2 separate regions of the Homo sapiens genome follow, and region 2 is linked to region 1. Evidence: fine-mapped expression QTL. A gene starts in region 1. The other region holds a variant in brackets. All regions are shown on one strand. Distances are from middle to middle.

Region 1 (10,355 bases):
ACCCCATTTCTACTAAAAACACAAAAATTGGCCGGGCATGGTGGCACACATCTGTAGTCCCAGCTACTTGGGAGGCTGAGGCACAAGGATTGCTTGAACCCGGGAGGCAGAGGTTTCAGTGAGCCAAGATCACACCACTGCACTCCAGCCTGGGCAACTGAGCAAGACTCCATCTCAAAAAAAATAAAAAAGAATATTCCAGTATTCTAAATGTTATATTCCTAAGGATATTTAGGAGTAAATATGTTTTTACATGTTTTACTTCTAAGGATATTTTTAAGACAAAGTAAATCCCAATACTCCACTCTACTTCTCTTCCCAAATCCAGTATAGAAAACCTAGAACCAGAGATTACCAATACAGATTCCATACGGTCCTAGAACCCTTCTGATTTTTATAAAATTTAAAAATATTACTTTTAATTAACAAACTTTACCATGAATCTTCTTAGCCATGGGGACCTGATGACAGGACGAGGTGGATAAAGAACTAAAGAACTAAACCAACAGTGAAGTATTACAGCATCAATTATGATTAACACAAAACAAATTCCTCAATTCTTCCAGTAATTAAAGTCAGTCATACGATGTAAAAAGATGGGAAAGAATTCTTGCTCATAAGTAGAACTCCAATCCTGAGCTAGGAACGTGAAGTTCTCGTCCCATGTTCTCACTCCTTAAAATATTTATATTTACAGTACACTAGGGGTAGGTGCTGAGAATTCAGCAGAAGTGGATTTGAAGTCTAAACAAATACACTTGAACCCACTAAACATTAAGTTATCAATTTATTAGCTGTGTAACCTTGGGCAAATTTCTTAGTATCTCTGTTCCTCATTTTCTTCATATAAAAATGAGGATAACAACACAACCTAATTCATGTTAATTCACTTATAATTAACTTACAACAGTTCCTGACACATACTAAGTGCTGTTATTACTTGGCAATTTACATCAACAAAAGTAGCACTGTACAGCCCATGGAAGATCAAGGAGTATCAACTCAGAAACTCTAAATTTATAAAAGCCCCAAAAGAGTTTGGGACAATTCGGCCGGGCTCAGTGGCTCACGCCTGTAATCCCAGCACTTTGGGAGGCCGAGGCAGGCGGATCACCTGAGGTCAGGAGTTCGAGACCAGCCAACATGGTGAAACCCCGTCTCTACTAAAAATACAAAAATTAGCCAGGCATGGTGGCAGGCGCCTGTAATCCCAGCTACTTGGGAGGCTGAGGCAGGAGAATCGCTTGGACCATGGAGGCGGAGGCTGCAGTGAGCCAAGATCGCGCCATTGCACTCCAGCCTGGGCGACAGAGCAAGACTCCGTCTCAAAAAAAAAAAAAAAAGAGTTTGGGACAATTCACAGAACATAATTCTATCACTCTGGAGAAAAAAGACTATATGGTACTATTTCTCTAATGTACTTTAGTGACCTCTATAGTATTCTCTTGTTACTAAGAGAATACTATAGAGGTCACTAAAGTACATAACAACCCAAACCCTTATTAATTCACTGCATCTACAATAGAAAGGGTATCATCCTCCACAATTCCAGTTCTTCACATACTGGGTGAGGGAAGCTTTGTTCAGTAATAAAAGCTTTAGTTTATGGCAAGTATGATTCAGTGAGTTAAATGATGACATAGAATGATTAGATTACCTCCTTACTAGTGATTTCCTTTCTTGTCAATATCAAAATCCTTTTCTTCACTCCTTTCTTTAAAGGATAACAAAATGGTAGGCGCACTGGATTCTAAGGTGTTTCTAAATTCAGACAAGTTGAAAATACGGTGACAGAAGGAGAACTCCGAGTTACCCTATGACTCAGCAATTCCACACTGAAGTATACACCCAAGAGAAATGAAAACACAGGTTTACACAAAAGCTTCAATAAGAATGTTCGTAGCAGCATTATTTACAATAGCCAAAAAGTGGAAACAACACAAACGTCCATGAGCTAATGAATGGATACATAAAATGTGGTATATCCAAAAAACAGAGTATTATTCAGCAATAAAAGGAAGTACTGATACATGTGACAACATGGATGAACACTGAAGACATGCAAAGTCAAAGAAGCCAAACAAAAGGCTTGATCCTATTTATATGAAATGTCAGAATAGGCAAATCCATAGAGACACAGATTAGTGATTGCAAAGGACTGAGAGGAGGGAGGGTAGGAGAATAGGAAGGGACTGCTAATGGATACCGGGTTTCTTTTCAGGGTGATCAAAATGTTCTGAGATTAGATAGTGGTGACTGACTGCACAACCTTGCCAATATATTAAAAACCTCTGAATTGCACACACATAAAATTAAATTTTATGTTATGTGATATAAGCCAAAAAAAAAATTCTAAGACATCCCCAACCACCTGAATGGATCCCTCCCCTTGGCCAATGGCATTCCAAAGTTAAGCTGAAAAACCTGTTAAGGCCATGATGGTGGTAGTGGTGGTGGAGTCCTACACCCCTCATTATACCCTCCTCCCTTCTGGAATTTAGGAAAAGCATTAACATTAACACAGATGTCTGTAAGAAACATTTATAATCTATTCTCTCTAAAGCCTACTATTTGGAGGCTTCATCTGTACAATAAAATGTTGATCCCCAGGATACCTTAACCCAGACATTCCTTTCTATTGATAACAACTTTCAACCAACTGCCAATCAGAAAATTTTGAAATCTACCTATGACCTGGAAGCCCCCACCCACTAAGAGTTGTCTTACCCTTCCAGATCAATGTAAATCTTACATGTATTTGACTGATGTCTCATGTCTACCTAAAATGTTTAAAACCAGGGCACACGTTATCAGGATCACCTGAGGGCTGTGTCAGGGGCCACTGGTCACCCATATTTGGCTCAGAATAAATCCCTTCAAATATTTCAGAGTCTGACCCTCATTGACAACAAATATCTCAAAAAAGAAAAACAGAAAGAAAGAAACCCCGTAAGGAGTAAAACAATACAAAATAAATCATTCTTGACTTAAGAATTAGATGAGCTACTGGTGGAAATTTTTGGGACAACTGAAGGAGACAGAAATTTCCTGGGATAAAAATGAGAGAAGTGAATGTACAAGAAGTAACACACCAGTTATAAAGCTTAGAAAGGGAGTGAATGGAGGCAGACAGAGGGGAAAAAAAAAAAAAGCACCCAACAGGATTGGTTTCCATCTTCAAAGCCCTTTAAACTACAGAAACAGTCACTCATTCAACAAATTTAACATGCATTCTGCACTTACTACCTATCAAACACTGTGCTCAACACTTTTTAAGTATCATGTCTCATGTTTCATGTTCACATCAACCCTATGAGGCAGTTACTATTATCCTCATTTTATGGATGAGAAAATAAAGGTTTACAGTAGTGAAGGTCATATGGCTAGGAAGAGGCTTCAAAGCCAGGACTGTACTCTAACGCTACAGTAGTCTAGTCAGCATTCTACATGTGACAAAACACAAAAAAAGAGATCAAGCATGGCACCACAAGTTGGAGTTTCTGCCTCAGACAGCTAGAGCTGCAAGCCTCAATTATATGAGCAGTAAAAGCTCATAAAATTTCTTCACTTTGTCCTTGGTCATCACCTAGGCTTTATTTCTCAAGTTGCTACCCAAGAATTAGATTTTGACTGCCGTAAGTATTTTTCCCCTATAAGAATTACAATCTAAGTGTGGCCGGGCGTGGTGGCTCACGCCTGTAATCCCAGCATTTTGGGAGGCCGAGGCGGGCGGATCACCTGAGGTCGGGAGTTTGAGACCAGCCTGACCAACATGGAGAAACGCCGTCTCTACTAAAAATACAAAATTATCCGTGCATGGTGGCGCATGCCTGTAATCCCAGCTACTCGGGAGGCTGAGGCAGGAGAATCGCTTGAACCTGGGAGGCGGAGGTTGCGGTGAGCCGACATCGCGCCACGGCACTCCAGCCTGGGCAACAAGAGCAAAACTCCGTCTCACAAAAAAAAAAAAAAAAAAAAGAATTACAATCTAAGTGTGGAACATCATGCTTGGCAGCTGTTAAGAGAACCACATCAAGACAAGAGAGGATTTGAAGGGATACACAGACAGCTGACACAGACACACGAAGGATCTCACACCATTACACTATTTTCACCGCCTTGATCATTCATTAAACCTTGTGAAAGAGAAGCCAAATCCTTGACAAGAAGTTGCCTTTACAAAGAAAAGTCGTGAGACATACAAAACCACCAGATCACTATAAAGCAGACAAGGTTTGAGGGCAAATAAATGAGGCCTGGCTAGCTTCATCGTCCTTGTATCACCACCGCCCCCTACTTATCCCAGTGTTCAATTCATCAACCGAAATTTACTGCGTGCCTACTATGCGCCTGGCTCTGAGCCACGTGTTGGGAATGTACTGGTGTAAAGGATCGCTCTCATTAACTGAGGTGAAGTAAGCGTTGAATATACTGTTGAACAAATAAACCTGAACACACTAACTTTCAGTTCAACCAAAGCACCAGCTCCTTCTCGCTGAAGGAAGCTTCCTCACCTTCCGCCCTACTGACATTTTGGGGGATTTTTCTTTGTTGTTGGGGGCGTCCTACACACAGTAGGCTGTGTAACAGCATCCCTGGCTTCTTCGCACTAGATGCCAGTAGCAAGCCCTGGAGCTGTGACTATCAAAAGTGTTTCCAGACATCGACCAATGTCCCCAGGGAAGCAAAATCGCCCCGGCCGAGAAGTACCGGGGTAAGGCCCCGCCAAGTGCTTTCCGTCCCACAACCTTAATTCTCTACACAGCCTTCCAATCTCGGCTCAAACTTCTCCTCCTCGGGGAGGGCTCCCTGACCTCTCCGACTAGATCCGCGCCTTCTGTTTTGCGCTCTTTGTAAGATTTCTCCACTCTACCCTCACTGCGCGCCGAGGGATTACCCCGCTTAACGTCGACTCCCAGGGCTGTGCGCTCCGCAAGGGCAAGGAATGCGCCGCTCGCTGTGTCCCTGGCTATCGGCACAGGGCCTGGCACGCAGGTAAAGTGACTGCCGTGGGGTGAACCACGGACGGCAAAGCAAGGCAACGGGGGAAGCGAGGGGAATGGGACGCGAGAGGGCGTATGCCGGGGCACTGGCTTCGGAGCCGAGGCGCATGCGCTTCGCTCTCCCCGGCCCCTCACGGTGGCAGGTCGCGAGCGTCTGAGGCTTCGCCGGAGCTATGGGAGGAGAGGCAAGGTCGGCCACTAGGACTGAGGCTCCCGAAGGAGGAAAACTTACACGGGCCTGAAAGCGGGCGGCGAAATCCCTCACTCGGGAAGACTGACTGCAGCCACCACGTCTGCGGTGAGCGGTGGTTCCCTCCCTCAGCTCCTCTAACGGCCGTTGCACGCCCGCCAGGCCGCGCGCCACAGAACGCGCGTCGTTTGGCCCCACCCCGTTCTGCCGCCTCTGGCCAATCGGGAGTCGAGCCGCGCCGGCTTCCCGCCCCTTTCTATCCTCTTCTGACCAATCGGCAGCCGAGCCGCGTCGGTATCCCGCCCCCACACGCTACCCTCTGCTCAGAGAGCCGGACGGATCTTTCTGCGCATGACCACGTCGCCACTTGGCTCCTTCTCTGCCCCTTGCCGCGTTTTACCTGTAGGTGGAGCTCTGCTCACCTAGACCTGGAGGGGCCCTGCTGGGCCTGTGCAGGTTGGGAAGCTGGCGGCCCGCGGGCGGGGCTGGGGACACGAGAATCCCACTCAGCTTGCCTCACCCTCCTTCCATTCCAACGCCGGTCTATCAGTTCTCACACCTGAAGCAGGGGTTCAGGTTGTGACCAGGAGTTAGGGTGTGGCCTGGGTCACTGACTAGTCAGGGTCAAGGCTTGGTCTGGGTTGGACGCAGTGGTCAGCCTGTGACCAAGGTTCAGGTTGAAGGGTAAAGGATCAGTCCTGCCTCCCTCCCCAAACTTGGTCCACAGGAAAAGGAACTGTTAAGTCCATTTGCATTAATATGCGCTTGAAGAGTCAGACAGGAAAATTGTTTGAAAGGAGAACAGAACCATCAGCCAAAGGAATGAATCTCAGATAGTGAAATTCTGGGTATCTAGAAACCTGACTTGGCAGGGAGAGATACTAAAAAATTGTATAGGAGGCCGGGCGCGGTGGCTCATGCCTGTAATCCCAGCACTTTGGGAGACAGAGGAGGGCGGATCACGAGGTCAGGAGATCGAGACCATCCTGGCCAATATGGTGAAACCCCGTCTCTACTAAAAATACAAAAATTAGCTGGGTGTGGTGGCGCATACCTGTAATCCCAGCTACTCGGGAGGCTGAGGCAGCAGAATCGCCTGAACCAGGGAGCCGGAGGTTGCAGTGAGCCGAGATCGTGCCCCTGCACTCCAAAAAAAAGTTGTATGGAAAAAAAAAGTTGTATAATTTCTTAGCTTTAAGAGCCAGACAAAGTGAGTTCATTACTGAATAAAAGTCACTCTAGAGGAAAGACCCTAGGGATGTGCCCCAAGGTTGTATCCTTTGTCCTCTCTTTTAGTATTTTAAGATAAGAATATAGAAGACATAAAATAGCAGATTTAATGGATAATGAAAATGAACCTGGGTATGATATGAAATTAGGACCAGAAGCCTCTGTTAACGTAAAGGCTAAAAAAAAAAATGTTAAGACAGGGTGTCTAAATGAATAAATTTATGGACTGAAGGGTAGAAAGCTAGAAAGTGTTAGTCCTGGCCGGGCACGGTGGCTCACGCCTGTAATCCCAGCACTTTGGGAGGCCCAGGCAGGTGGATCACTTGAGGTCGGGAGTTTGAGACCAGCCTGTGGCCAACATGATAAAACCCTACTAAAAATACAAAATTAGCCAGGTGTGGTGGTGGGCACCTGTAATCCCAGCTACTGGGGAAGCTGGGGCAAGAGAATCACTTGAACTCAGGAGGAGAGGTTGCAGTGAGCCAAGATCACTGCACTCCAGCCTGGGCAACAGAGCGAGGTTCTGAAAGAAAGAAGGAAAGAAGGAAAGACGGAAGGAAAGAAGGAAAGAAAGAAAAAGAAAGAAAGAAAGAGAAAGAAGAGTCAGAAAACATTGAAAGGCTTCCATTTCTTTTGTGAAAGGCATATGTGAGGAGGGAGGGAACAGGGGCATCTAGAGGACTGAGAAGAATTAGGAAGATGTGAATTGCTGATACAGAGGATAGAAGAGAAATCCGACTGGAAACATAGTGGAAGTGTTGAGATTTAAATTTACAAATAGCAAACAGTACATTTGTACAGTTCTTTGTAATAGATATCTATAGTTTAAAAGTAATTCCATTATCTACTGTCAATTTTCTTTTTTGTTTTGTTTTGAGACAGAGTCTTGCTCTGTCACCCAGGCTGGAGTGCAGTGGCACGATCTCAGCTCACTGCAACCTCTGCCTCCCAGGTTCAAGCAATTCTCCTGTCTCAGCCTCCTGAGTAGCTGGGACTATAGGCACCCACCACTACACCCGGCTAATTTTTGTATTTTTAGTAGAGACGGGGTTGCACCATGTTGGCCAGGCTGGTCTCGAACTCCTGACCTCAGGTGATCTGCCCGCCTTGGCCTCCCAAAATCCTGGGATTACAGGCGTGAGCCACCGTGGCCGGCCCTACTGCCAATTTTCAAATGTGAATGACTTGTCATATGTATATATATACATATATGCTAGTCAGGGTTATTGCACAGTCTGAGGCTAGGGTCAGGGCTTGGTCTGGGTTGGAGGCACTGGTCAGCCTGTGACCAGGGTTTAGTTTGAAGGGTAAGGAATCAGTCCTGCCTTCCTCCCCAAACTTAGTCCCCAGGAAAAGGAACCATTAAGTCCATTTGCGTTAATATGAGCTTGAAGAATCAGACTGGAAAATTGTTTCAAAGGAGGAACACACACACACACACACACACACACACACAGACACACATGCATTTGAGAAGGAGTCTCTTTATGTTGCCCAGGCTGGGCTCAAACTCCTGGGCTCAAGCTATCCTCCCGTTCAACCTCCAGAGTAGCTGGGACTACCAGCATGTGCCACCACTCTCAGCTCATTTATATTTTAACAGAGACTTTTGGTCCTAGTTTCAGAGAATATTCATGACCAACCTCTTTAGATATATTCTTTGTTTTTTTCTGAGATGGAGTCTTGCTTTGTCGCCCAGGCTGGAGTGCAGTGGAGCGATCTCGGCTCACTGCAACCTCTGCCTCCCGGGTTCAAGCGATTCTTCTGCCTCAGCCTCCTGATTAGCTGGGACTACAGGCGCACGCCACCATGCCTGACTAATTTTTGTATTTTTAATAGAGACGGGGTTTCACCATGTTGGCCAGTCTGGTCTCAAATTCCTGACCTTGTGATCCACCCACCTTGGCCTCCCAAAGTGTTGGGATTACCGGTGTGAGCGCCTGGCCAATATAAGATATTCTTAAATTGTCAGTTACATTATTATTTTTAAAAGACTAGCTGGATGTATTAGTCTGTTCTCACGGTGAGAACAGACTAATGTTCACTGGGTAAGACATACCTGAGACTAGGTAATTTATAAAGGGAAGAGGTTTAATTGACTCACAGTTCCACAGGGCTGGGGAGGCCTCAGGAAACTTACAATCATGGCAGAAGGGGAAGCAAACACATCCTTCTTCACATGGTGACAGCAAGGAGAAGTGCCCAGCAAAAAGGGGAAAAGCCCTTTATAAAACCATCAGATCTTGTGAGAAGTCACTTTCATGAGACCAGCATGAGGGCAACCGCCCCCATGATTAAATTACCTCCCTTCAGTTCCCTCCTATGACACATGGAGATTATGGGAACAAGATGAGATTTGGGTAGGGACACAGCGAAATCATATCACTGAATATTTTAATAAAATATATCAAGTACACTGACTTAATGACTGAAAAGGGACAGGGTTAGTCCAGATGTGACCCACCTCAGTATAAAAAAAAAATTGCAACTTAGTTACAATCATATAATTAGAGTTATCACTTTCATATGCACTGTGTGGTCTGGTGGATTATTTTATAAGCATCTATTGTTACACAGCACTGAGGCTTCTTTAACATGGTCAACTAATTTAGTTTAAATGCAATAGCTTCCTTGTTTACTTAATTTTATTTCATTTATTTTCTTTTTGAGATATTTAAGCGGAGTCAATATTTTGTCCTTATCCTTCAAGATATATATGTATATATTTTTTCTACTTCCCTTCTTCCCTCAGGATATATTTTATCTATTTATTTTTGAGACAGAGTCTTGCTCTGCCACCCAGGCGGGAGTGCAATGGCACAATCTCGGCTTACTGCAAACTTCCACCTCTTGGGTTCAAGCAATTCTCCTGCCTCATCCTCCCGAGTAGCTGGGATTACAGGCACCTGCCACCACACCCAGCTAATTTTTGTATTTTTAGTAGAGACAGGATTTCACTATTATGGCCAGGCTGGGCTTGCATGCCTAACCTCAGGTGATCCGCCCACCCCAACATCCCAAAATGTGGGGATTACAAGCGTGAGCCACAGTGCCTGGCCAGGATACATTTTAAATAACGGCAAGGGCTAATGCCTTTGATAGCAGGACTGTTTAAAGTCTACTACAGACGTATAAAGTCAATATGAATTCACAATGAAATGTAATTTATTGCTGATTTAATAAATGTGTGACTTTGATGTGCATGAAAAAATAACATGGATTGATCATTTGACATGATTTTTTTCAGGAGCTGTTAAGGCATTAAAGACAACAAAATGTTCCTGCAAATGAATTTTTTATTTTTTATTTTTTTTATTTTTATTTATTTATTTTTTTTGAGATGGAGTCTCGCTCTGTCACCCAGGCTGGAGTGCAGTGGCGCGATCTCGGCTCACTGCAACCTCTGCCTCCCGGGTTCATGCCATTCTCCTGTCTCAGCCTCCTGAGTAACTGAGACTACAGGCTCCCGCCACCACGCCCGGCAAATTTTTTGTGTTTTTAGTAGAGACGGGGTTTCACCGTGTTAGCTAGGATGGTCTCGATCTCCTGACTTCATGATCCGCCCGCCTCGGCCTCCCAAAGTGCTGGGATTACAGGTGTGAGCCACCGTGCCCGGCCAACCTGCAAATGAAATATTAAGACTGTTAAATTTAAATTAAATTTAGCTTTTTTTTTTTTTTTTTACAAGGTCTTACTGTCACCCAGGCTGGAGTACAGTGGCAGGAACACAGCTCACTGCAGCCTTGACCTCCTGGGCTCAGGTGATTCTCCCACCTCAGCCTCCCGAGTAGCTGGAACTACAGGTTCCTGGCTAATTTTTAAATTTTTTGTAGAGAAGAAGGTCTCAAGAAGGTCTCACTATGTTGCCCAGACTGCTCTCAAACTCTGGGGCTCAAGCTATCTGGCACACCTTGGCCTCCCAAAGTGTTGGG
Region 2 (10,355 bases), 20 kb before region 1:
CATGTACTTTACTTATTCCCAGCATACTTCACGGTCAAATATCATTTTTCTCCAAGAATCTCTTTAAGAAGTGGTTCTCAACTAGGTCTTAGGGTTAACAGCATCAGCATTACCTGATGATGTAATTTGTTAGCAATGCAATGTCTTAAGCCTAACTCCTAGGCCCACCAAACCAGAAACTGTAGGGATGGGTCCCAATAATCTGTATTTTAACAAGCGCTCCAGGGATTCTGATGCACACTCACATTTGAGAACCACTGCCTTAAAGCAATACCTAAGCCATTGTATACTGGAAGGAACCTAGGACAAGACATCAGAAGACCTGGGCTCAAAGCCTGGCTTCCCTCCACTCATTCTCTATATGATCTCAGGCAAGGTCTTCCTCTTTCTCAGGTTTCAATTCTTTAATCAGTAAATTCGAAGAATTAACTAGTTTTATTTAAGGCACTTCCCACTCTTAACATTCTGATTCTATGAGACAGGATACTGCCTTAATTAGGTAGCAAAGCCAGTGCTATAACCTGTCAAATATCCAACATTCAAATGCCCAAATTGCAGAAGCTTGGTCAACAAAGCAGGCTTCTTTTCAAACTCTAAAGCCCCACAACCATTGATCTCAGTGAGAATATTATCTTCTTCAGCTGCTCCTAGATATGGAGGATAAAAATGAGAATGCCCGGGTGCAGTGACTCCCGCCTGTAATCCCAGCACTTTGGGAAGCCGAGGTAGGCGGATCACGAGGTCAGGAGTTCGAGACCAGCCTGGCCAACATGATGAAACCCCGTCTCTACTAAAAATATAAAAATTAGCCAGGCATGGTGGCAGGCACCTGTAATCCTAGCTACTTGGGAGGCTGAGGCAGGAGAATTGCTTGAACCCGGGAGGCGGAGGTTGCAGTGAGCCGAGATTGTGCCACTGCACTCCAGCCTGGGTGACAGAGCAGGGGAAAAAAAAAAAAAGAGAGAGAATAGCTCTAAATCCTGCATTACCTTTGCCTCTCTCTCCTTTGGCTAGGGCTAGAAAATTAAGACTTCTCATAACATCACCCAACTCTAGGACCTTACTATCTACCTTTCTTCCAAGTATGTCTTCACACCCAGGCATCTGGACTTTCACCTGGTTCTTAGCCTTTTCTGCTCCCACAAGGGCATGATAAAGGGTGCTTTATAATTAGTATGCCCTCTTTGAGGGCAGGGACACTTACATCACTTGAGCTCTTTTCTATCTCCTGGATACCTAATGGTGTCAAGCATAGGGAAGACACCGAGTTATGACAAACAGAATGCCATCCTGATGGCCAATACTTACCTGTAGCCTCAGCAAGCAGACATCACCAAAGGGGGCAGGGCGGCCCAAGAGGGCACTGTGGACTTGCAGTTCGCTCTCTCGCACTTTCTGCTCCAGCTGAGAGATGTGTTTCCTCTGCCTGCACAAGCCGGTAGAATCAGGTCAGGGTCCTGATGCTAACCCCTCACAATATGAGCCCCTACTAAGTACAATCCCTATTACGTAAGCAAGATCTTAGATTCTGGATATCACTATTTTCTGAAGGAAGAAGAACAAATGAGAAAGATAACTGGGGAAATGAGGAAAAGATCAGAAGCAATGAACTGGCTACCCCCTTAGGCACTCCCTAGAGCCCCTAAAGAAATACATAACTGGTCTATTATATTAGTTATATATACACGACTAGGCTGCTTATCAAACTACCTCCACCATGAGGCAAGACATGGACCTAAACAGAGGAGGAATGCTTTGCCCTTGGGAAGACTCCATTAGGTGTCTTCAATGGGGCCTGGGAGAGTAGTCTGGCTCTGTGGTACCCCTTGCCCTCTTACTTGTCAATGAGAAGCTCTTTTTCCTTCAGAAGGTGTTCATTACTGTTCAAGATGCTGATCCACTGTGCTGGCTCTAAGATGGGCAGTGAAGGACCAAAAGCAGCAGGATGGTGGCAGATGGCTCCATTCTGAAGCTGAAAGGCAAGTAGGCCCAGATGAGCTTGATCTTGACCCATACACGCCTGAAAACACCTGAGCAGTAATCAGCTGGGTCTGTAGTCAAAGCCCAACTTGGCTCAGCCTGATGAGGCCCAATGTTTATGAAATAATTTTAGCTCTGAGGCATGACTGGAAAGAACCTGCCAGGAAGGCTTCTGCCAACTGAACACTCCCTGTTCAAAAAGGCTCTAGTTTCTAAGAAAAGGTCAGTTATCTTTTATTATCTAGCAACAGAGGCAAACCAGGAGCTAGGATGTCCTCACCAACCAAGGAAGGGGAATATGTCTGCTCCCTTCCTTCCCACTCTTCAGCAGCACAAGGATTTTTTAAAAGAAAATATGCTGGGTGCGGTGGCTCACGCCTGTAATCCCAGCACTTTGGAAGGCCAAGGTGGGCAGATTGCCCAAGCTCAGGAGTTCTAAACCAGCATGGGCAACAGGGTGAAAACCCGTCTCTAATAAAAAATACAAAAAATTAGCCAGGCGTGGTGGCATGCGCCTGTGGTCCTAGCTACTCAGGAGGCTGAGGCAGGAAAATTGCTTGAACCTGAGAGGTGGAGGTTGCAGTGAGCCAAGATCATGCCACTGGGCGACAGAGCAAGACTCTGTCTCCAAAACACACACACACACACACACACACACACCAAAACAAAACAAAACAAAAAAAGGAAAATACAGGCAGGCACAGTAACTCACCCCTGTAATCCCAGCACTTTCGGAGGCTGAGGCGGGCGGATCACAAGGTCAGGAGTTCGAGACTAGGCGGGCCAGCATGGTGAAACCCTGTTTCTACTAATAATACAAAAAAGAGCTGGGCGTGTTGGCACGCACCTGTAGTCCCAGCTACTCGGGAGGTTAAGGCAGGAGAATCACTTGACCTTGGGAGGTAGAGGTTGCAGTGAGCCGAGAACACGCCACTGCACTCCAGCCTGGGCAACAGAGCAAGACTCCATCTCAAAAAAAAAAAAAAAAGAAAATACAAAAGTGGTAGAGAGAACACAGGGGCTCAAAGAAGGTTTTCACATTTATTTATTTATTTTTTGAGACAGAGCCTCGCTCTGTCATCCAGACTGGAGTGCAATGGCGCAGTCTCGGCTCACTGCAACCTCCGCCTCCCAGGTTCAAGCAATTCTCCTGCCACAGCCTCCTGAGTAGTTGGGACTACAGGCGCATGCCACCACACCTGGCTAATTTTTATATTTTTAGTAGAGGCAGGGTTTCACTCTGCTGGCCAGGCTGGTCTCGAACTCCTGCCCGCCTCGGCCTCCCAAAATGCTGGGATTATAGGCGTGAGCCACCTGGCCTCAAAGATGGTTTTTAAACCCCAGCTCTGCCAATTACCAACTCTATGACCCCGTACAGATTATGTAGTCTAAGAACCTGGTAAGTTTCTACATCTACCTCGTTAGTACACTATGAAGATTAAATAAAATGCTGTATGTGAAAGTACTTAGCCTAGTGACGTATAAATACGTTTTTAGGTTTTCCTTTGTAACCTTTTGCTATTTTGGAGACCCTATCTGGTGCTTAATTTGACTACCAAACAGATTCAATGGCCAACAGCTCACAAGCCTGTATTTCCTGTCTACAAACATCTTCCTTCTTTTTACAGCTATTTTCTTTAAGCCAAAATTCAAAGGACAAAAGCTATTACAATTCTAAGAACTGTACAGAACCTAGAAAATCCAAGGAAAGATAGACCTCTACCTGCATTTGCTCCATCTGTAAACGAATCAATTCCAGCTGCTGCCGACAAGTGCTGAGTTCACAAGATTGCTCTCGGGGATGCCAAGTGTCAGGACTCGGCTGCCACACCTGAGAGGGCAGAGGCTTGGAGAGCCCGGGAGCAGGCTGGAGTCCCAAAGGGAGGACCCCACTGCTATTAGAATGTGGTCCATTCCGCTCAAACACTGCCCCGCTGCCCGGTGCCTTCTTGGCCTCAGGCAACACTCTGTACAACTCCTTACTTGTGCTGGTTCTTGGGTTGTGGAAGCGGACTCGGTGGTGAGGATCTGAATAAAGTGTCTCCATCATTGCCGACTGATTGAGGGTAGATTCCATGCTAGGAATATCAAACTTCCTCGCCTCTTCTTGTCTTTCATGGCCCACTGCTGGAAACCAGGACTGCTCAATTCCATTTTCTCCAGTAGCACCAGAGAAATACATGAGATCTCTAGATAGGCCTGGAGAATGTTTCATTGCACCGAGGTCTCCATTTCTTGTCATTCCCACACTTTCAGCCAACCCTGACAAAGGGAGTTTAGAGGAAGAGGGTCCAACAGGTGTAGAATTTGGCTTGGCAGGAGAGGTCCCTAAAGTAGAAGGCATCACATGGGCTGTTGGAATGGTTACGTGGCTTTTGATGGGCTGGAAAGGAGGACTGCCACTTGAGCTGCAAAAATCTGGGGAGAGAATAGTCTTCCATAAGTAAAAATTGAAGTAGCAAGCTTTCTTGAGTTTGAATGCTATGCCAGAAGCTCTCGGCCTGTCCTGAGACCAAGCAGAGAGAGCACCATCATCAAAAGTATCAGGCAGAAAGAAACGGCAACCAAACTGGGAGATGTATGTTCCAGGATCTCAAATGCCATTCACAAGGTAAACTAACAAAAGGCAATAATGACTTCACTTTTAACTTAGTCCTTTGTACTGGAATAAAAAAAATCTTGTCAGTCAACAGACAAAGCTGAAAAACTTTTAAAAAGTTTTTTAAAAAATTTAAACTTTAAAACAAATTACTTACTTAAGGAAAATGAGTTAGGTCCTACTCTTCTGGAAGCTGGACAACTCTCAGCTATAATCAAATCTAATAAAAATATCCTTTCCAAGAGTCACCAGAATCTTCTGCGACCTCCAAAAGCTCCCCCAGGAAGGTGAGCAACGAGTCCAAACTATCTGAAGAATGAAGCGAACTAGACAGTCTTGCTCAGTATGCAGGACAGGGAGTATGGCATCTGAGGCAGGATTCTGTTCTCTCTCCCATACCCCAAACCTGACTGCCTGGATATGTGAAGTTATTCTTAGTAACTCTCAGGTTTCACTCTAGCACAGTGAGCACTCTCAATTGGGTACACACTGAAATCCTCTATTTTATATTTTGCCTTTCACTTGCCCCCTTGTGTGTACCCAACTGTGTTTTTTTTTTTTT[A/TTA]ACTTTTCCTTCAGACTGAATTTGTGTTTCCTTTGGCTCCTGCCTGGTCTTGGGAGACAACCCTTGATTAGCCCTACTATACAAGGTTCACATTTCTACCTATTTCCAACTTTCAAGTACTACTCTGAGGGGGACTACTGCAAGCAAACAATAAGGGAGGAATGTGAGGTAACATACTTATTGCTTTCAGCAGGCAGAAAACTGAATAAGGAAATAAGGAATACCAATTTCTTCTCTTTTCAACTATATTCAGTACTCGTTCCCAAATCAAGCATATCTACCACGGAGAAGAGCGACTACCAACTTGTTTCTTTTTCTCCCCAGCAACCAACACAGAGAACACTCAGATAACAACAACAAATACTATAATTGTTCCCAGAATTATGTAAGTATAGATCAGCTACGACCTTCTCATTAAACAACTTTTTTTTTTGAAATGGGGTCTCACTCTGTCACCCAGGCTGGAGCACAGTGGCGTGATCACAGTTCACTGCAGCCTCGACCTCCCCAGGCTCAGGTGATCTTCCCACCTCAGTTTTTGTATTTTTAGGAGAGATGGGGTTTCGCCATGTTGCCCAGACTGGTCTCGAACTCATGGGCTCAAGTGATCCACCTGCCTCAGCCTCCCAAAGTGCTAGGATTACAGGTGTGAGCCACCATGCCCGGCCTTAAGCAACTCTTTAAAAATATGGGCAAGCCACCTCACACCTGTCAGAATGGCTATGATGAAAAAGATGAGGCCGGGCGCAGTGGCTCATGCCTGTAATCCCCAGCACTTTGGGAGGCTGAGGAGGGGGGATCATGAGGTCAGGAGATCGAAACCATCCTGGCTAACACGGTGAAACCCTGTCTCTACTAAAAATACAAAATATTAGCCAGGTATGGTGGCACGCGCCTGTAGTCCCAGCTATTCGGGAGGCTGAGGCAGGAGGATCGCTTGAACCCAGGAGGTGGAGGTTGCAATGAGCCAGGATCGCACTACTGCACTCCAGCCTGGGCGACAGAGTGAGACTCCATCTCAAAAAAAAAAAAAAAAAGATGAAAGATAACAAGTTTGGAGAGGATGCAGAGAAAAGGGAACTCTAGTACACAGTTGGGGGGAATGTAACACAGCCACTGTGGAAAACAATGGAGTATGTAGCTCCTCAAAAAACTAAAAATAGTTACCATATGATCCAGCAATCCACTTCTGGGTATATATCCAAACGATATGAAATATGTATGTCCAAGAGATATCTACAATCCCATGTTTACTGAGTAATTATTCACAATAGCCAAGTTATAGAATCAACAGACGAACAGATAAGGAAAATGCAGTATATTACACAACGGAATACCAGCCTTATAAAAGATGTCAATTGTGTCACTTGCAACAACATGGATGAAACTGGAGGACACTAAGAGAAATAAGCCAGGCACAAAATGACAAATACTGCACGTTCTTACTTATATGTGGAAGCTAAAAAAAACCTCGACACATAGAAACAGAGAGAATAATTGTGGTTACCAGAAGCTGGGAGCAGGGGGAATCGAGAGATGCTGATCAAAGGGTAAAACATTTCGGTTAGACAGGAGGAATAAATACTTTAAAAAAAGACGTGCAAGCCTTATATTACATGCATAGTATCTAATTTGCTATACTGAAGATGATCTTGGGGATATATAAAAGGCCACACTAAAAAAACACACACACACGTAACAAAACAAAAACCTGAATAAGTTCTGATAACATGCATTAGTCTCTCAGGACCAAGAAAGAAATTTCTCAGTTAAAGGACCCAGTTTCTGATGTCTCACAACTTAAATATAGGACTAGTACACAAGGTTAAGGCAGACTGCTAGTGATAAAGACTTCAAAGACTAGTAAGCAATACAATTTTTTGTTTTATTTTTTGGAGCCGGAATTTCACTCTTGTTGCCCAGGCTGGAGTGCAATGGCGCGATCTTGGCTCACCACAACCTCCTCCTCCTGGGTTCAAGCGATTCTCCTGCCTCAGCCTCCCAAGTAGCTGGGATTAAAGGCATGCTCCACCACGCCCGGCTAATTTTGTATTTTTAGTAGAGACAGGGCTTCTCCATGCTGGTCAGGCTGGTCTTGAACTCCCAACCTCAGGTGATCCGCCCGCCTCGGCCTCCCAAAGTGCTGGGATTACAGGTGTGAGCCACTGCCCCCGGCCCAATTTTTTCTTTTTTGAGATGGGGTCTCACTCACTCTGTTGTCCAGGCTGGAGTGCAGTGGCACGATCTTGGCTCACCGCAACCTCTGCCTCCTGGGTTCAAGCGACTCTTCTGCCTCAGCCTCTCGAGTAGCTGGGATTACAGGAGCCCGCCACCATGCCTGGCTAATTTTTGTATTTTTAGTAGACGGGGTTTCACCATGTTGGCCAGGCTGGTCTTGAATTCCTAACCTCAAGTGATTCACCTGTCTCGGCCTCCCAAAGTGCTGGGATTACAGGGATGAGCCACCGTGCTTAACCATAAGCAATATGTTTTAAATCCTCCATAACAGCACCATAGTTATCAGTTCTTACCAAGGGTCACTGCTCCCACGGTGTAATTACAAAACAGAAGACTGTGAGGTTGTAGCACATGAGGGGTTGCTACCATGAACTTTGCAATACCTCCTTCCAGTCTCCATCCATAGCACCACTCTCTCTAGATTCACCAAATTCAGTTTTGAGCCCACACCCCCTGCTGTGGTTTGAAAGTGTCTGTCCCCCAAAAGTTCATGTGTTGGAAACTTAATTGCCAATGTAACAGTATTAAGAGGTGGGGGCCTCTAAGAGGTGACTGGGTCATGAGGGTAGAAGCCTCATAATAGATTAGCAGAAGTGAGTTAGTTCTCAAAGCAGTGGGTTGTTATAAAAGCAAGCTTGGGGCCGGGCATGGTGGCTCATGCCTGTAATCCCAGCACTTTGGGAGGCTGAGGTGGGCGGATCACCTGAGGTCCGGAGTTTGAGACCAGCCTGATCAACGTGGAGAAACCCTGTCTCCACTAAAAATACAAGATTAGCTGGGCGTGGTGACGCATGCCTGTAGTCCCAGCTTCTCAGGAGGCTGAGGCAGGAGAATCGCCTGAAACCGGGAGGCAGACGTTGCAGTGAGCCGAGATTGCACCATTGCACTCCAGCCTGGGCAACAAGAGCTAAACTCCACCTCAAAAAAAAAAAAAAAAACCAAGCTTGGGTTGGGCACGGTGGTTTATGCCTGTAATCCTAGCACTTTGGGAGGCAGAGGCAAGCGGATCATTTGAGGTCAGGAGTTCAAGGCCAGCCTGGCTAACATGGTGAAACCCCATCTCTACTAAAAATACAAAAATTAGCTGGGCATGATGGCGGGTGCCTGTAATCCCAGCTACTCGGGAGGCTGAGGCAGGAGAAATCACTTGAACATGGGAGGCGGAAGCTGCAGTGAGCCAAGATCCCACCACTGCACTCCAGCCTGAGTGACAGAAATAAGACTCTGTCTCAAAAAAAAAAAAAAAAAAAAAAAAAAGAAAAAAGAAAAAAAAAAGGCAAGCTTGGCTCACTCTAGTGGTCTCTGCTTTTCCACCATGTTATGATACAGCACAAAAGCCTTCGCCAGATGCTGCCACTATGCCTTTGGACTTCTCACTCTCCAGAACCCTGGGCAAAATAAACATCTTTTCTGTATAAGTTACACTGTCTCAGGTATTCTCTTACAGTAACAGAAAATACACTAAGATAACCCCAAAATAATGCCAAAACCAAAGCCAAGAAGAAAAGTACCAACTGACCCAGAAGAATATGGCTTTTCTAATTTTTTATAGATGATAAATGGACATATTAGAAAATTAAGGTGAGGTCTTTGTCCACATTTTTAACTTATCTATTGGGTTTATCTATTTATATTAAGTAAACTGCCTGATTCAGACTAACTGTGCTATGAAATGTAAAGTTACACCAGCGGTTCCCAACCTTTTTGTTACCAGGGAATCGTTTTGTGGAACACAATTTTTCCACAGACGATGGTTGGGGGGATGGTTTCAGGATGAAACTGTTCCACCTCAGATCATCAGGCATTAGATTCTCGTAAGGACTGAGCAACCTAGATCCCTCACATGCACAGTTCACAATAGGGTTCGTGCTCCTATGAGAATCTAATGTCACCACTGATCTGACAGAAGGCGCAAGCTCAGGCAGTAATGCTTGCTCGCCTGCTGCTCACCTCCAGCTGTGTGGCCTGGTTCCTAATATGCCATGGACTGGTACTGGTCCACGGGCCAGGAGTTGGGGACCTCTGAGTTACACCGTAAGTCTGGTCTGTGGTTTAGAATATTTTGAAATGAAATAGCAACACTCATTTTCAAAGGGACCTCTATCTTCTACAATTTTCAAAGGCATTCAAAATTTAGTGTATGGGAACCAGGCAGGTGGTGCATCTCTGTAGGCCCAGCTACTCAGTAGTCTAACTCAGGAGGATTACTTGAGCCCCACCGAGTTCATGGCTATAGTACACTATGATGGTACCTGTGTGAACAGTCATTGCACTCCAGTGTAGGCAACACAGTGAGATCCATCTCTTTAAAAAATACAATGCATGGGATATGTGATTTTTATTTACAGAAATCTACAGTTCCCAAAAACTTTGGGGTTTTGCCATTTTAAGAATATAGTTCTAAATCTCTCCCCTACTTAACCACATTTTATGACCCCTCCCCACCCTAAAAAACAACTCATTTTTGAGCAAACTTCCTTTCACAGTAAGGGTAGATTCAGCTATTACCAAATCTCAGTCACTTCAGTCTACACCTGAAGTGATTCAGTAGCCTGAATTACACCAGTGACTATTTCAGTCTTTTGCAAAGAGCTGAAAGCATTCTGAACTCTTCAGTACCCACCTCTACTCTGTCCCTCGAGAATCTTTCAAGGTAAAACACCTTAGTGAAGAAGGGTGGAATCAAAAGCATGCCTATTAAATTTAAAGATGCAACAATGAACTATACTGTATACCAGTCACAGGGGTTCTTGTCAACTAGACCGCAAGCTAGATTCATGAACAAAATGTGTAAGAGTTAAGATTAGAGGCCAGGAGCAGTGGCTCACGCCTATAATCCCAACACTTTGAGAGGCCAAGGTGAGTGGATCAGCTGAGGTCAGGACTTCGAGACCAGTCTGGCCAACAAGGTGAAACCCCGTCTTTACTAAAAATACAAAAATTAGCTGGGTGTGGTGGCACACGCCTGTAATCCCA

The links. PIP is the estimated chance that this variant, and not a neighbour inherited with it, causes the effect.
Region 2: its variant is fine-mapped to the expression of CEP85 in whole blood (INTERVAL, PIP above 0.99).

The regions. Positions count from the first base shown.
Region 1 is chr1:26,229,191-26,239,545 of GRCh38, reverse strand. CEP85 (centrosomal protein 85) reads right to left here and starts at 5,346. Exons shown (of 14, transcript NM_001319944.2): 1 at 5,236-5,346. It also overlaps the pseudogene ZPLD2P. RefSeq lists enhancers at 4,478-4,527, 4,618-4,677, 4,998-5,147 and a silencer at 9,761-9,929.
Region 2 is chr1:26,249,214-26,259,568 of GRCh38, reverse strand. CEP85 (centrosomal protein 85) reads right to left here. Exons shown (of 14, transcript NM_001319944.2): 4 at 3,704-4,398; 5 at 1,839-1,972; 6 at 1,309-1,426. Among named protein-coding and RNA genes, the nearest start is that of CEP85, 20 kb to the right of the region's middle. RefSeq lists a silencer at 2,045-2,245. The variant A/TTA (reference allele first, on the strand shown) is at 5,142.